Linked DNA regions of Homo sapiens: region 2 is linked to region 1. Evidence: fine-mapped expression QTL. A gene starts in region 1. The other region holds a variant in brackets. All regions are shown on one strand. Distances are between the middles of the regions. Region 1 holds the start of RSL24D1 (ribosomal L24 domain containing 1). Region 2 has its middle 57 kb from the start of RSL24D1.

What was found. PIP is the estimated chance that this variant, and not a neighbour inherited with it, causes the effect.
Region 2: its variant is the best candidate, but not a certain one, in a credible set for the expression of RSL24D1 in whole blood (INTERVAL, PIP 0.68).

The regions. Positions count from the first base shown.
Region 1 is chr15:55,195,664-55,198,463 of GRCh38, forward strand. RSL24D1 (ribosomal L24 domain containing 1) reads right to left here and starts at 1,278. Exons shown (of 6, transcript NM_016304.3): 1 at 1,147-1,278. The coding sequence starts at 1,227. RefSeq lists enhancers at 398-1,289, 1,083-1,242.
Region 2 is chr15:55,138,114-55,140,913 of GRCh38, forward strand. No RefSeq gene overlaps it. Among named protein-coding and RNA genes, the nearest start is that of RSL24D1, 57 kb to the right of the region's middle. The variant T/C (reference allele first, on the strand shown) is at 1,142.

The DNA.
Region 1 (2,800 bases):
CCTGGCAATCTTTTGGTTCATTTTTATAAACTTCTTATCATGTTCCTGAGAGCAAGTATTCAAAATCTTCTAGGTTCTTTTACGTTATCAAACATGGCTTTGGTCCGTCACTTTCAGCTGAATCCCTTGGATCTAATTAATGAGGTCAATATCTTTGATCTGTTACAGAGATATAAGGTGAAGAAGTCAGACTTGTAATTATTTAGCACGTCAAATTCACCTTAATATACAGATTCTTAGACCCTCTTCCCCTCCCCCAAAGATTCCAACTCAATAGATCTGGTGAAAACCAGGAATCTGTAAACGCCCAGTAATTCAGAAGCAAACGTAAGAGATCAAATTCTGAGAAACAATGTGTTTCTCTGAGAAAGAGAGGAACGGGATTCATTCTGTAATGACAGGACAAATTCATGTACCATTCAAAACGTCTTTCACAACTAGGACTCATATTTATTATTTACGTTTACAGACTTATTATACTTGTAGCCCTACGCCCAAGGCTCTATCATCATTTACAATCCAGTCACTTCCTCAAACAAATGTATTTGCTCCGTTCTCTGCCTTTTCTCAAAATGTTCACTTTCCTTCCACTTAGAAGGCCCCCTCCGCTTTCTTCCGCAAAATTCAGGATCCAAGATAAATATCACCTCTATGCTGAGTCTTTCCGTACAGGACCCTCCCCAACTCACCTGCAGTAACTTAATACATAACTCTACCATTAAGCAATACGGAACACTTCCATCAACCTCTACACTTTAGTATGGACCTTAGTGTAATGCCTGACAGGGTATACACTCAACAAAGTTTACTGGATTCAAGAATTTGGCCCAAGTACATGAGTGGCCAAACAGCCCTCACAGACATCCAAGATTCCTGGTAGGCGCTAGCTGGGATCGCTCCTGAAGTTCCTCGCTGCCAACGCCACCCAAGGGTGGCGTGGTGGCCAGCGCCGCTCGGAAGACGGGCAAGGAGAAACCCCCGAAGCGGAACGTTGAGAACGGAGGCCCAGTTAAGCCACCCTCCCAGGGGAACAACGGGAGGAACCCGGGCCAAACACGGCAGACGCAGAAGCACCCAGCACCGAGCCGCCGCGCCCAGGAACCGCGGGAGCTAGGCTGAAGCAAGAACTGGTGTCGACCGCCTTACCTTGCAATCGTTGCGGACGAACATCATGCCGTGTCCAGGATAGATGGGCCCCGAACAGAAATAACACTTTTCGATACGCATGTTGAACCCGCGTGTAACCCCACCAAACAAACGCCAAGCTTGAGAGGAAGTGATGCAACCCCGTCACCGGAAGTTACCTTCTTCCCCCTTCCCCGACCGGAAAAAGGCAAGCGTCCTTCGTTCTCGCGGGTCTGTTAGACCAGATGCGAACACGACTGTGCCTCCGGCGGCCGTGTGGTCAAATGCGCTGCCGTTTGACGCAGGCGCAGAGCTGCAGACTAGACCTGTTCGCTGTTACTTTGGGGAAATGTGGTTCTGCGCCACCTTGTGAACTTGCTCTCACAGCGCCTAGTTTTTTCTCTCTGTGTGTCGGCATTTATGCAAGTATTATGTATCTTTGGTTTGTGCTTTGCCTCGGAGTGCTCTCGAGAGCACTCTCTTAACTCATTTGTCTACTGCCTGCCCTAGACCAGCCCTCGATTCTCGTCCCACAGTGATTTGCAGGGTGTAAGCGGCGAAGACCCTGCAATCCAGCGTTGCTTCGAACATTGCAATGAAAACGGTTGAGTTGCTGATGCTCCAAGGACTTTACCAGCAATTTTTTTAAATATAAAATCGTGTTATCCGCCTCCCCCCCATTTTAATTAATATGCATATGTAGTAAACAAATATTTTCGCCGGAAACTACGACTCCCTCCCTAGACCTGCGGTCTTCCTCCCCAGGGGCAAAACAGTTCCATTTATTACCTGCCAGAGCTTTTCTGTGCATAGGCAAACATGTATATTTGTGTGTTTGCCTGTCTCTACGTCCTCTTCTTTATAATACTAGTTAATATGCTATTTACTCTTTTCTGCATCTTGCTGTTACCTTGTATCCCTTCATTGGAATGTGAGCTCCATGAGGGGCAGGGATTTCAGTTCGTTTGGTTTACAACTACATCCCAGTATCTAGAACAGTCCCTGGCACATAATAGGCATTTGATACATATTTTACTGTAAAAGGGTATTTAACATTCTTTTTCATATATATATGCCATTGTATGAAAGTATTTTAATTGGTCACTAATCGATGGGCATTCTTATCTTTTGATATAATAAGTATCTGTTGGTACGCTTTTTCAGGAGAGGGTTTATGTAGAACTGCTGGATCAGAGGAGCTGGATATAGATAAATAGTTTTAAAATTTGGCAGATAATACTAAATTGCCTTCCAAAAGTTTTTACCAATTAACACTCAGCATCAACAAATAAGATGTCTGTTTCACTACCCCGCTGTGAAAAGTGATCTTTGCCAACCTGAGATGAAAATTTATCTTATTATTATTTCAACTTGAATTTAATTACAAATGATGTTAAGAATCTTTCACAATGTTTTTCAGCTTTTTTCTGTGAATTGCCTGTTCAGGTCCTACGCAGTTTTCTATTCTTTCGTTGATTTTCAACAGCACTTTACACGTTAAGGTTAGTCCTTTGCTGACATGCATTTAGAAATTATTTCCCTATCAATGTTTTAAGCTTTGCTCATGGTATTTTTCCATGCAGAAATATGTTGTTTATATATTCAGATTTATCCAATTTTTTTATGATTTTGGATTTGGTACTTTCCTTTAAACTGCACTTCTCACTCCAAAATT
Region 2 (2,800 bases), 58 kb before region 1:
ACAGAAAATTAACAAGGATATTCAGGACTTGAACTCAGCTCTGGACCAAGTGGACCTAATAGACATCTACAGAACTCTCCATGCCAGATCAACAGAATATACATTCTTCTCAGGACTACATTGCACATATTCTAAAATTGACCACATAATTGGAAGTAAAACACTCTTCAGCAAATACAAAAGAAAGGAAATCATAACAGTCTCTCAGACCAGAGTGCAATCAAATTAGAACTCAAAATTAAGAAACTCACTTAAAACTGCACAACTACACGAAAACTGAACAACCTGCTCCTGAATGACTACTAGGTACATAACGAAATTAAGGCAGAAATAAATAAGTTCTTTGAAACCAATGAGAACAAAGACACAATGTACCAGAATCTCTGGGACACAGCTAAAGCAGTGTTTAAAGGGAAATTTATAGCACTAAATACCCACAGGAGAAAGCAGGAAAGATCTAAAATCAACACCCTAACATCACAATTAAAAGAACTAGAGAAGCAAGAGCAAACAAATTCAAAAGCTAGCAGAAGACAAGAAATAACTAAGATCACAGCAGAACTGAAGGAGTTAGAGACATGAAAAACCCTACAAAAAAAATCAATGAATCCAGGAGCTGGTTTTTTGAAAAGATTAACAAAACAGATGGAGTGCTAGCTAGACTAACAAAGAAGAAAAGAGAAAAGAATCAAATAGATGCAATAAAAAATGATAAAGGGGATATCACCACCAATCCCACAGAAATACAAACTACCATCAGAGAATACTATAAACACCTCTATGCAAATAAACTAGAAAATCTAGAAGAAATGAATAAATTTCTGGACACCTACACCCTCCCAAGACTAAACAAGGAAGAAGTCGAATCCCTGAATAGGCCAATAACAAATTCTGAAATTGAGGCAGTAATTAACAGCCTACCAACCAAGAAAAGCCCAGGACCACATAGATTCACAGCCGAATTCTACCAGAGCTACAAAAAGAAGCTGGTATCATTCCTTCGGAAACTATTCCAAACAAAAGAAAAAGAGGGACCCCTCCCTAACTCATTTTATGAGGCCAGCATCATCCTGATACCAAAACCTGGCAGAGACACAACAAAAAAAGAAAATTTTAGACCAATATCCCTGATGAACATCAA[T/C]GCAAAAATCCTCAACAAAATACTGGCAAACTGAATCCAGCAGCACACCAAAAAGCTTATCCACCATGATCAAGTCAGCTTCATCCCTGGGATGCAAGGCTAGTTCAACATATGCAAATCAATAAATGCAATCCATCACATAAACAGAACCAATGCCAAAAACCACGATGTAGAAAAGGCCTTTGATAAAATTCAACACCCCTTCATGCTAAAAACTCTCAATAAACTAGGTATTGATGGAATGTATCTCAAAATAACAAGAGCTATTTATGACAAACCCACAGCCAGTATCATATTGAATGGGCAAAAACTGGAAACATTCCCTTTGAAAACCAGCACAAGATAAGGATGCCCTCTCTCACCACTCCTATTCAACATAGTATTGGAAGTTCTGGCCAGGGCAATCAGGTAAGAGAAAGCAATAAAGGGTATTCAATTAGGAAAAGAGGAAGTCAAGTTGTCCCTGTTTGCAGATGACATGATTGTATATTTAGAAAACCCCATTGTCTCAGCCCAAAATCTCCTTAAGCTGATAAGCAACTTCAGCAAAGTCTCAGGATACAAAATCAATGTGCAAAAATCACAAGCATTCCTATACACCAATAACAGACAAACAGAGAGCCAAATCATGAGTGAACTCCCATTCACAATTGCTTCAAAGACAATAAAATACCTAGGAATCCAACTTACAAGGGATGTGAAGGATGTCTTCAAGGAGAACTACAAACCACTGCTCAACGAAATAGGAGAGGACACAAACAAATGGAAAAACATACCATGCTCATGGAAAGGAAGAATCAATATCATGAAAATGGCCATACTGCCCAAATTAATTTATAGATTCAATCCTATCCCCATCAAGCTACCATTGACTTTCTTCGCAGAATTAGAAAAAACTAAATTTCATATGGAACCAAAAGAGAGCCCATACAGCCAAGACAATCGAAAGCAAAAAGAACAAAGCTGGAGGTATCATGCTACCTGACCTCAAACTATACTACAAGGCTACAGTAATGAAAACAGCATAGTACTGGTACCAACACAGATATATAGACCAATGGAACAGAACAGAGGCCCCAGAAATAACGCCACACATCTACTACAACCAACTGATCTTCGACAAACCTGACAAAAACAAGCAATGGGGAAAGGATTCCCTATTTAATAAATGTTGTTGGGAAAACTGGCTAGCCATATGCAGAAAACAGAAACTGGACCCCTTCCCTACACCTTATACAAAAATTAACTCAAGATGGATTAAAGACTTGAATGTAAGACCTAAAACCATGACAACACTGTAAGAAAACCTAGGCAATACCATTCAGGACATATCCCTTTGCATGCGCAAAGACTTCATGACTAAAACACCAAAAGCAATGGCAACTAGGGCCAAAATTGACAAACGGGATCTAATTAAACTAAAGAGCTTCTGCACAGCAAAAGAAACTATCAGAGTGAACAGGCAACATACAAAATGGGAGAAAATTTTTGGAATCTATCCATCTGACAAAAGGCTAATATCCAGAGTCTACAAGGAACTTAAACAAATTTACAAGAAAAAAAAACAACCCCATCAAAAAGCGGGCAAAGGACATTAACAGACACTTCTCAAAAGATGACATTTATGCGGCCAACAAACATATGAAAAAAAACAGCTCA